Linked DNA regions of Homo sapiens. The protein of the gene in region 2 purifies or fractionates together with the protein of the main gene of each other region. This does not show direct contact. Each region holds a gene or a part of one and is shown on either strand. Other genes may lie near its edges. The genes, in order: CEP78, H2BW1 and ARHGEF40.

The links.
Region 1: the proteins of H2BW1 (region 2) and CEP78 purify together in Homo sapiens (co-immunoprecipitation; one large-scale study listed by IntAct). This does not show direct contact.
Region 3: the proteins of H2BW1 (region 2) and ARHGEF40 purify together in Homo sapiens (affinity purification with mass spectrometry; one large-scale study listed by BioGRID and IntAct). This does not show direct contact.

What each region holds. Positions count from the first base shown.
Region 1 is NC_000009.12:78,245,999-78,249,646, reverse strand, and holds part of CEP78 (centrosomal protein of 78 kDa), read right to left. Parts: intron 2,979-3,648; coding exon 2,865-2,978; intron 1,357-2,864; coding exon 1,292-1,356; intron 886-1,291; coding exon 774-885; intron 1-773. UniProt on the Homo sapiens protein: Centriole wall protein that localizes to mature centrioles and regulates centriole and cilia biogenesis. Involved in centrosome duplication: required for efficient PLK4 centrosomal localization and PLK4-induced overduplication of centrioles.
Region 2 is NC_000023.11:104,010,861-104,015,280, forward strand, and holds H2BW1 (histone H2B type W-T), read right to left. Parts: upstream 2,849-4,420; 5' UTR 2,717-2,848; coding exon 2,310-2,716; intron 1,889-2,309; coding exon 1,852-1,888; 3' UTR 1,830-1,851; intron 604-1,829; 3' UTR 287-603; downstream 1-286. UniProt on the Homo sapiens protein: Atypical histone H2B that can form nucleosomes structurally and dynamically indistinguishable from those containing conventional H2B.
Region 3 is NC_000014.9:21,073,252-21,076,899, reverse strand, and holds part of ARHGEF40 (rho guanine nucleotide exchange factor 40), read right to left. Parts: intron 2,969-3,648; coding exon 1,720-2,968; intron 1,569-1,719; coding exon 1,401-1,568; intron 1,278-1,400; exon of another isoform or gene 1,256-1,277; coding exon 1,135-1,255; intron 541-1,134; coding exon 444-540; intron 365-443; exon of another isoform or gene 338-364; coding exon 257-337; intron 127-256; coding exon 10-126; intron 1-9. UniProt on the Homo sapiens protein: May act as a guanine nucleotide exchange factor (GEF).

The DNA.
Region 1 (3,648 bases), on a different chromosome or scaffold from region 2:
AAATATCAGTAGAACTAGATTATACCAAATTTATGTATTCAGGAGAATGTAAAATTTATGCCATTAGCTGATAAACAGTTTATAAAGTCTTTTTTCATTATTCTTGGTCACAAAATTATAGACAATTTCAAAATTCTAGACTATTATTTGGCAGATTAAATAAACCATAAATAGCAAACATTTAGGGAATGTTTGTCTAAAATGTTCCATCTCTGGGTAATAAACTTACCTGCAGTATTGTTTTATAAGGATTACATATATTTTAAGGTTATTTCATCATTGAAAGAAGCAAGGTGCTACCTAATTCAACAACTTTGGGTAAGAATTTGCAAGGAAGGAGGAGGAAACAAGGGAAAAAAAATGGAACTGGGAAGAAATTTTGTTTTCTATCGTATGAAAGGATAATTCTTCATTAACAACAAAATCATACAAAAGCACTGCTAAAACTGTCATCAAAGTGCATCCCAAATTTCAATTGCAAAGTATCAAAAGTAATCATGAATCAGAAAACATATCCAAAATGATGAATATTGTATGAAAAACAAATAAGGGTAATTTTTTAAATGGAAGCACTAGCATCCCTTTCCTAATGATTCATTTACTATTTCTACATTCCATAAATTCTCATAATCTTATCAGAACAATTACAGACCTCATAATATGCACGGAGTCAATATTGGTTGTTACTGTCAATATCATACAATGAGAAGAGATTTTAATTTTAACACACTAGAACACTAGTAGCATTAAAAAGCCAAGACAGAAAAGGTTACCAATTCTAATAGTAGCTTTTCCTTTGTGACCACTTCCTAGAATTATAGTTCTCCTTTTCTGTTTAGCAGTTTTGGATGGTTCCTTCACTGATGGAGAAGTTATCCACTGGTACTAAAAGAGACAGAATAAACACTATATTTCAGTTACAGATCATTTATGAGGGCTACATCTTAAATGGAAATTGTTAAGATACTCTATGTTAATAAAAGGTTTGCAATCAGCAGTTCTGGGACCCAAAATTAAAGAATCATACGGTATTTACAAAAACAGAAAAGACATTTGATTTGACTGTAAATTTAAGATGGCAGAAAAGTGCCTTAATAGTTTCATTTTATTAAAAACAGACGAAAAGCTGGGCACAACGATATATACCTACAGTCCTAGCTACCTAGGAAGCTGGGAAGGGGGAAGATCACTGGAGCTCAGAAGTTTGAGGCCAGGCTGGGCAGTACAGTGAGATCCCAGAAGAAAAGCAATTAAATAAGAATTCTTTCTGGAGAAATAAAACATGATATACCTCTGATTTGGCACTCCTTCCATTCTGGAGGACTTTTTTGATAACTGCTTTCATCATAGAATGATCTAAAGTAAAATAAAAATTGAAATTATAGTAATTATTTCCCAATGAGTGGCTATTCCCATTTAAAAACAAAAGCCAACCAATTATTGCTTTTTCCCATGAAATTGAATATGAATTCCACATAATGTAATTAAATACCTTTTCCCCCTTTGAGTATTCTAACTTCTTCCTCAAAAACAAAGTATTCCTACACACATATTGTCCCTGATGGCTACTATTTTGGCAGCAGCAAAGATCAAATGTAAACACTTTGGAACTAAAGTAGCTTTAGATACCTCTAAATAGGAAATCAAAAGCCTAAACACTGTCCAGATACTTAGATGCTTAAAAGGCACCTAATATACCCAAATCAAAGTCATGATGCGCCCCCAAAGCTGCTCTTCTCCACAGCCTCCTTTTCTCTATAAACAGTACCACCCAGTTGTATGCAAAATCACCTAGGACTTTTTAAAAAAATTACTATTTCCTTTATACCCCACAAGTCTTGTTAGCTACACCTTGTTTCAACCACTTTTTACCACCTCCAACCTTCCACCCTAAGTGAAGCCATAGCCATCTCTAACTTGAACCAGTGTGAGTCTCCTAACTGGCCTCCCTCTTTCCCTTTTATAGCCCCCTACAAGTGTATTCTCCACACCAAGTCATCTGATTGAATTACTACTTGGAATATAACCCTTACCAGCTCAAAATCCTCCCATGGTTTTCAGCTCATTTAGAATTATCTAAGTCCTTACCGTGACCTTCAAACCTTACAAGATCAGGCCCCTGGCTAGTTGTCTGACTTTGTAGCATACCAGTCTCTTCATCACTCAGTGCCCCAACCATATTGGCCTTCTTGCTTTTCCTTAAATACTCCATCCACCCTGCCACCTATGTAACTACATATTCATTGCTTCCTCATCCTGGAAGGTACTTTATCTGCATCTTCCACGGCTTGTTCCCCTCCTAATCAGGTCTCTGTTCAAATGTCCCTTTTTCAGTGAAGCTGTCCCCTAAAAAACCTATCTAATATAGTCCCACCTGCCCCCATCTGTCTTCTTACCTTACGGTATTTTTGCACTTCCTACTATCTAAATTACATTACGTATAACTCCCCAACTAGAATGTAAGCTCTATGAGACCAAGAATTTGTCTAGCTGGTTTACTGCTGTATGTTTAGTGCTTAAACCAGTATCTAGCAGATAGAAGTATTCAAAAATTACTTGTCAAATCAACAAATGAATGAAATACTATTTCCAAGAATTCAGAAGTTCCACAAGAAGAAAATAATGCACTTGGTGGAAGCAGATTTATTATCTAGGTTCACTCCTATTCAGAGTAGCAGCCAAGAGCAATTTAAGTACAACTCTTTTCATCAGTAAATTATCTACTAAAAACATAAGAAAGTGCAAGATTACAAAAGTGTAAGATTAGGGAAGGAAACACATTAAGTTTTCAAAACTGTCAATACATGAGAAATTCTTTTTCTTTTGCTATTTGTTAGTCAATAAAAAATATTGTAGCGACATACCAATGAGTGGATTTTTTCTTATATCCAGAACGACCAGAGTTGTATTGGTTTCAAGGGCCTCTAGCAAAGCCTTTGCTCCTTCATTGGTGAGGCCGCACTGTTGCAGGTCAAGAGCTTTCGATGAAAGACAAAGGGTCACTTGCTAATTCTATACAGATTTTTTGTTTGTTTGTTTGTTTTTTTGAGACGGAGTCTCACTCTGTCACCCAGGCTGGAGTGCAGTGGCACTATCTCCGCTCACTGCAAGCTCTGCCTCCCAGGTTCACGCCATTCTCCTGCCTCAGCCACCTGAGTAGCTGGGACTACAGGCGCCCGCCACCACGCATGGCTAATTTTTTTGTATTTTTAGTAGAGACAGGGTTTCACCGTGTTAGCCAGGATGGTCTGGATCTCCTGACCTTGTGATCTGCCCACCTCGGCCTCCCAAAGTGCTGGGATTACAGGCGTGAGCCACCTCGCCCGGCCAATTCTATACAGATTTAACATACAGACAACTCCCACTTATTCATGCCTGGAAGACTCCTGCCCAAGACTACTCATGGCCAGTTTTTAATCTTGGGTATTGAAAAAATAAAAATAGAAAACCATATGCACACACATAATACAAAAAAGAAACCCTCTTCATAGATGTGTCATGATTACCCTCCCTTTAGTACCAATAAATTACCCAACATATTTTACAATTACAGAGTTGAAAAATAACTCTACATAAAACATCACAGAATGAATATTTGTTCATAATTAACAAGGATGCTAGTGGCAGTGTAAACATCACAGGCAAAAA
Region 2 (4,420 bases):
AATCACCCACTGAAATGCTATAGCAGATGTGTGAGCTCCTCTGCCCATCTTCACATCAAAGCAGCCTTTTTCTCTTTCTTCCTATAACTCACCGGCATCAGTCCCCTTGAACTCTCACTCTTCACTCCCCACAGCCCAATCAGAGTTCATTGTTAACGCTGTTTTACTAATGCTCCTCATTCATTTCTGAATTTACAAATGGAAAACACACACTCCAGGGTAAAATATCCCAATGGATACGGTTTCTGAAAAAGACATGTCAAATTACCCAGTAGACATGCAAGGATAATTTTAGAAATTTATTTGTATGTCCCATTTGACAGAAAGACTGGCGCTTTAAAGCGAAAACAATTAGCATAATGAGAAATAAGTCACTGAGTGAGATGCGGTGTTTTAGACAAGGTACACAGCTCTGTCTCTGGAAAGGAACAGGGTTCTGCCAAGCGTCTTTGGTTTTCAAAGTGTTGCTCCGGACATGTAGGGTCACCTGGCGGCACCGTCCAGAGCGATTTAGTTGTGGCTGATTTCGTGGGGGGTTTTTCTTGGTCTCCTTGTGCAGTGAGCATTTCTCTTCAACTATTTTCATGACATTTTTCTAATATTCTGCAAAAACAGAAAGTAGCAAATCCCAATGAGGGGACTTCTTGGCCCTACATCCTTTCTCTACGGAGCCCAAGTGGAGCTCTGGAGGTGAACTGCCCACGCTGCCCAAATGCACTACTCAGGGAAGCTCTGGCTACTATCCTGCCATGCCCCCATTTCCCTCTTGACCAAACGGTCCTCTGCCAAAGGTGGAATAATCTATGTGGCTATGTGTTGGGCCATCTGGTGTGGTTCTTTCCCACTTCTGATGGGCTCAAGAAAATTTTGATTTTTGTCATTTTCCCAGCTTTTGTTTCATGGTTTGACTGAGAGTGTCACCCTTTACTGGTTTCTACATATGAAGGAGAAAGGTTGTTTATGAGATGTTTCAAAATTCACGGGAAACATTTGACAAAAATGGCCACATATTGAGCTTCAAGGCACAATACAATAAATTCCTATGGGTCGCAATCCCAGAGTATGTTCTCTGGTCCACATACTCGGGCGGCTGGAGATCCTCTGAAAAGAAAAGCAATGGGAAAGTCAGCAGCTGCTCTGAAATTCAACAATACACTCATAGGAAAAAGTGCTAAAAATACAAAGACTTGGGACCCAGAAGAAAGCACAATGAAAGCTAACCTATATTAACATTAACATGAATATTAATATGCAAATCTCTTGAGGAAATAAGCGTTATCTGACTTCTCCTAAAGGCTGACCATCCTCTGCATAACTTGATGCTAGGGGCAAGGAACATATACTACTCCTAGCACTGGATTCATATCCTTAAATGACCATGATTACAAACACTGAAAACAAAAACATCAGGTAAAGAATCACAACCCTGTCCCCCCAAACACCAGACTGCATATCAGTGCAAGGCTGTTGTGGGTTCAGCCTGGTTCACTGCCCCCACACTGGGACAATGACTGTTGCTCATAGACTGCAAGTCACTCATTGGCTACACCACTGAACACTAGGGCATGAGCCATTTCTGTGGACACTCCCTAAGCCTACTGACACAAACCTGGAAGTAACGAAGGTTTCTGTTTAAAAAGAAACGAAAAGATTATCGTCATGGCAAAAAAAGAATGAACTGCAATAGTGATCTCAGAGTCGAGGAAGCTGGAAAATGAACGGATTCTTGAAAATTTTATTTAGCTGTATGTACACTGTAACTTGGCCTCATTTGCTTATTTACATGGATTCGTGATGGGAGCGGTGTTGAAAACATTTAGGAGGGTTACCTTGCTTCTTGTATCAGCGTATTCACTTTCTCTGTTGCTGTATGGCATACAGTGAAGTTCTGGAAAATTCCACCATCCAGTCACAGGAGAATGAGACAGAAAAAGGTAAAGATCAGTGCAGTAATAATATCACCATATAGATAGCCTAGAAACATAACTAACAAAAATGACCGTTTACGAAACTGAGGAAATGAAACACGATCACGGAAACACCCACTATTTTTCCTTGGAGCAAACTGCACTACAGATATATTGGAGCTGACAATGTTTAGTACTGAGGGGAAAATGCTTGAAACATTGCAGGATGCCACACGCCACATGCCCCCCAAGTCGGAAGGGCACCACCCACCCCAGCCTCCGGTGGTGTCCCCCTTGGCGAGCCACTGGTCTTTCAGGCCACATTCAGTGGCTCTGAAAAGACCCTTTGGGTTCCCGTGGTGCTCGGGTGCTCCTGAGGGAGCGCACTTGCTCCTGGTGTACCTGAGGACAGCCTTCGTGCCTTCGGACTCGGCGAGCTTGCCCATCTGCCCCGGCAGCAGCAGGCGCACAGCCATCCGGGTCTCCCAGGCAGTGATGGTCTGGCGCTTGGTGGAGCGGGCCAGGTGACCAGCCTCGGTGGCGATGCGGTCCAATATGTCATGAACCAAAGAATCCATGACACTCACGGCCTCCCGGGAAAGGCTGAGGCCCTGGTGAACCTGCTTCAGCACCCGGCGGAAATAGGTGGCGAAGCTGTCCCCGCGGCAGTTGGAGTGGCACCTGCGGGGCCCATGGCGCCCTCGCTTCCTCTGCTTGCTCTGCTTCTGGGACGTAGTGGAGTTGGCCTCTTTGGGCTCCTGGGTGATCAGCTGTTCCTCAGAGGTCGTCTCAGAGGAAGGTCCAGCCATGGCGGAGGCAGTGGCCATTAGATGGCACGACCAGACAATGGCGGTTGTGGACCGGGGAAGCCGGGGCACTTCGGTACGCAGCATGGCTCCACGTCTCGGGCCAGCTTCACGTCTGATTGGATGAAGTGTCACGCAGGGAGCCTCTCAGCAAACCTACCTGCGTTGAAGGTGACTGGATGGTCCCGTTGCGTGGCATCTCGTCAACCAATCACAGTGGGCGTCTGCGGGCCTAAGCGCCCCTTGTGGCCCAGCTCGGAGAAAGTTACACAGATAGATGCCTCACGGGGCAAAAGCGCATCCGCCCTTCTCAGCTGATCCATGCCACACTGTGAGCACTTTGAAGGGTGTCACTGAAAACTCCCAAAGTTTAGCAATTTCAGCTCATGATCCCTGAGGAGAGACAGACCTCCTGAGCCCAAGTCCATTATGCCGGAAGAATGACTGTGGCCACGTGTGGAACAATTGTCACCCATCTCAGAAGCTACTGTTATCCTGGGCTAAGCCACCCTGGCTTGAGCAGGAACTCCCTGACATGGCCGCCTGGGCATCAAAGGACCTAGCGGTCTGGCTCCGGGCTTCAGTACTGATCAACATCTTCCGTGAATCAGGAGAATGAGAAATGGCCATACCCCAGCCTCCAAGCAGACAATAGAAACAGAAAGGCACTTTTATTAAAAACATATGACAACACTCGACATCGACCAGGTTTAAAAAAATAATTAAAAAAAAAAAAAGGAAAGCAAAACAACAACCACAAATCACAACTCAAAAGCTGGAAATGGCTAATAAGTTTAAGAGATATTGGGTTAAAAAATATCGCCTTAAATCTCCTAGGAAGCCCCTGAGGGAGAGAAAGGGATTCCAGAAATGGAAATTATGTTCAAGTTAGAAAGAGAGCTTTCAAGAGTCTCTGATAATATACGCAAAGGCATTCCTTAAATGCATTTAAGTAACATTAAGTTGCAGGAATTGAACAAGAAAGATTCTTAAGAAATGCTGAAGAAATAAAGGTCATCGATGAACTGTCATTTCAAAGGTCAGGCTTTCAAGTGTATTTCCTGTCATGTCTTTAGCAAACAACTTATTCTACTCCTAATAAATTGGTTCACGATTAAGAAGGACAAAAAGGCTCATTTTTGTTGTTAGATAAGATCGTATATGGTAAGCTCTGTGACTGAACTCTAGTACACCATTTCTGAACAGTCCCCTTTACAAATGATGATCTTATAAATCTACTTAAACGTTTAGCAAGACAATCCTTCTCGTAGTTTGGTACAAGGCACAAGAGACCTGTCCACAACAATCTCTGTATTCATATCAGTAAGTCAGCATGATATTTTTCTTAAAAAAAAAAAAGCAAACAAAAAACAGGGAAAGAGCCACATCGTTTTTCTTCACAATCTGCAAGGTTAAACCTCCCAGGGAGGCTCTCACTGGTTCATTTCCGGGTCACCTCCCCACACTTTCAGCCATGGCTTGTGGTGCCTCAAGGGCTGGAAAGCCTTTATTGCCTGAGCCAGTGGTGACTATGGCATGAGCTGCTCTCACAGGATGTTCCCATCATCTACGTGATGCAAAATTGTAATATATAGTCCTTATTTTGTTTCTCTAATTCTTTTTTTTTCTTTTTTTTGAGACAACAATCTGTCACCCAGGCTGGAGTGCATTGGTGCGATCTCAGCTCACTGCCACCTCCACCTGCTG
Region 3 (3,648 bases), on a different chromosome or scaffold from region 2:
GAAGCTTACCTGGTGTATCTCTACCCAGTGACTGGGAGAGGGGTCCCTGTGACCTCCTAACTCCCACTGCAGCTCCTCTGGCTTGGCCACTCTTTTCAGATCATTCTCTGACAGCACCTCAGCACCCTGTAGAGGGTAAGGCAGGGGGTTTCTTCCTGGGCACCCAAGGACTCAGAAACCAGCCTGGGGCTCCAGCCAGCCTCTTCTCCTCTCCCCACTACTGATGGGAAACTAGATGGGAATGAAGGGCTCAAACCTGAAATCCACAGAGTTCAGTTGGAAGGTCATCATGAATGAGAATCAGCAGCCGCTGAACAAGGGGAGGATCTCCTGAGTCCTAAGGGCAGAAAAGAATAACCCTAAACTGGGCAATCGGGTGTCCTGGACTGGCCACTGGTGAAGAGTTAGGATCCAGGGGAACTGCCTGTTTGAGGGGTGGTTACCTGAAGTTGGCTCAAGGCAGGAATGAGTGCTGGAGGCAGTGGAGGTGCCTGACGAAGGTCCAGCAGGACGGACAGCCCCAGTGTCTGTAGATCAGGCCTGCGGGAGCAGGAAGAGCCAAGGAGGCTGCTGTGTGTGTGTTTTGGGGGATAGCAGATAAGGCAAGGCAGACATACGGGGTCTGTTTTTAGTTAATAGTCCTGAGGAGAAATTAGTTGCCGGTACATTTGGGAAGAAATGGGCAAAGGGCCAAATTCTGGGGTGTGTGTACAAGAGGAAGTCACCTAGCAGTCAGGGGTCTATATTCATATGGCTACTAGGTCAAGGGATTAAGGTCTGGAAAATTAAGAATTCTGTTCTGAAATGGCGTGCATTCAATATCAGCCTGTAGTATGGTGCCTAATAGGTACTCAGTGCTCAATAAATGTTTGTTGAATCAGTGAACCAATGTCCTGATGATCTTGGTAGGGTTGGAAGAGAGTGAAAGTCAACAGTGTTGCTTTTGAAGATCAGTGAAGATATGAAGCTGGAGGTCAGGGTAAGTAAGGCCAAAGGTCAATGGCTTGAAGTCTGAAGGTTGAAGAAGTAGGTGTCCTTAGAGGTCAGAAGGTCAGTGTCCTGAGAAGAAGGAGGTGAGGGTCCTCATGAATCAGGAGGTTAGTGTCCAGGGTGCCAGGACTGGGCCTCGGTTACCTGAGCAGTGAGTGGAGGTAATGAAGAGTTGTGTTCAGCGTGTCTCGGGAGGGTGGGGGCTCCTCAGGAGGGCACGGTGGGGTAATGGTCAGCAGAGCTCGCCCACTCTGGTCCACCCCTCCTGAAGACACAAAATGGCCAGGCTGTCCTGGCTGGGAGCAGTCCATGCCTACCTCCTTTCCACCCTGCCTCCCCCAGTCCCCAAGCCCACCCAATTGCTTCTCTTTCCCAGTCCTGTTTCCCTTCACCCACTGATGCCCACTGACCCGTCAGGATGAGGAATCCAGATGCCATCAAGTCCCAAGCTACATCAGGGTGATCAGAGACGGAGACTGCAAGGGCCTCTTCTGGAATGTTGTCCCCTTTTCCTTCCTGCACAGTCTCCAGCGGAGGTGTTGGAGTGTCAGACAGGGGGCCTTCTGGGCCTGTGTGTCCTGCACAGACACAGACAGAAACATGGGACTGAAGTTAAGATGGTTCTGGTTGTTCTGCTCCCAGCCTAACCCTGCTCCTCCTCCTGCCCCCTCCCATAGGCCCGACCTGCTTTGGCCCTTGCCCCATGAGCCTCACTCCGTGTCATCTCACCTGCCATACACAGCAGGCCTGGCCCCTCCAGCTCTCTCTCTCCGGCCCCCTCTTCTGTAGGCCCACAGGCTTCAGAGAGCTGAGGCTCTTTCTCGCCTGCTGTTTTGAGCTCTTTTGGCTCAGATTCTGGCTTCCCTGAGCCTTCATATTCCTCCTTAACCAGGTGGCATTCTGGAAGCTTGTGCTCACTTGGTGAGGGCAGATTGCCAAGGGCTTCTTGGTGGCTGGCATCTTCCTTGTCCCCAGGGCTCAGTGGGGCACTGTCCCCTCCTCGGCTAAGAGCCCCTCGACCTGCAGCTCGCTTCTTTCTTCTGTTTCCTTTGCCTGTTCTCCGAGGGGTACCAGGTGGTCCTTCAGCCCCCTGGCCTCCTCCTCCTCCTCCTCTAAGCTCCCCTGGCCTCAGGGGGCAAGATCCGGAGGCTTCTCCCACAGCCTCTGCTGGGGGCTCAGACACCTCCAAGACTGCTGCCTCTGGGACAGCCTCAGCTCCTGGGGGAGACTCAGGGGAGGCTCCGGTGCTGCTCCCCTCGCCGGGTGGGCGTGCTCCATCCTGGCCCCGAGGCCCCAGGCCCTTCTGGTGCATCCACGCCCGGTGTCTCCGGTGGCGGCCCTTCCCTCCAGCGCCCTTGCGGGTGGGTACCGTCCGGACTCTGGAGAGGCCTGGGGAGCCTTCAGCATCTGTTGGGCTCCCCCTCACGGGCAGCGTCACCTCTAACAGCTCCACATACTCGCCCTCAGGTCCTTCCACAGGGGCATTGTGCCCATCCCCAGGACTCCGGGTACCCAGCGCCTCCTCAGGAAGTGGAGGGCTGGGAAGCCCTGGAGGTCCAGAGGGCAGTTCTGGGGGCAGTGTACTTGGCTGATGTCCAACCATGAGGCCCTCTTTGTGCACAAATCGTGGACAGATGAGCTCAGCCCAGGGCAGCCGCTGAATCCCAGAGGGCGCAGACAGTAGGCAGGTACTGAGGCGACCTGTTGGCCGGTCCTTGTTGATGCCTTGTAGCCACTCAGGTGTGAATAGGTAGGCACAAGCCTCATTGGGCACAGGAACCTCCTGCACCCGCCCACCCCCAGGGGCCAGACACTTGAGTGCTAGTCGGGGTGCTTGGGCAGCTGAGGGCACCACCTGCAGATAGAAGTCTCCTGGGCGCAGCAGTTGCCAGGGTAGGGCTGCTAGCTGCACCACCACCTGTTCATGCAGGCAGAGCGGCCACCCCTCATGGAAGAAGAGGAATCCACTGTATTGGGCCTGGGGAGAGAGGTGGGAGGCTGCACTCAGGCCTCTGCTGAAGAAACCAGCAGGAGAGGGCAGTTAGAATGGGCCCACCCTAGGCAGGACCAGCCTTATGCCTGGAAGGTTATACTCTCAGGAGAGCAGGAGGGGAGATTTGGGGTATTCAGGTGGCAGAGAGGAAGGGATTGGGACTGATCGGTCTCCCAGTAGTAGGAAGATTCTTCAGGAAGCTAGTTCCATGTGTGGGAGGGTAAGAACTGAATCGTTACCAAGACATGGTCAGCAGATGCCATTGTCTTGGAGAAGCTAAAGACTCTTAGGAGTCTTTATATCTGTAGAAATGAATGATCTCTGTTGACTAATGTACGGGGGAGTTAGTGTCTTGAGAAATTCATATGAGGGGGAGAAGATGTCTGGAATTGGGTCTGGAGAGTTAGGGTCTTTGGGGGTCAGTATTGGGGTCAAGATGAATTTGGGGAAGATGAATGTGTGTGTGTGTGTGTGTGTTAGCATCTGAATGGTCAGTGCCTGTGAAGGTCAAAGTTTGTGAGAGGTCAGAGAATGAAGCTTAAGTGATTCTGGAGAGATCGGTTTCAAGGGAGGCTGTATCTCTAGGTTAGTGGGGGCATTAGTCAGCCTGGCTAGTCTGTAGAGTGTGGCAGTGGATCTTGGGGAAGGCAGAATAGTGATGCACG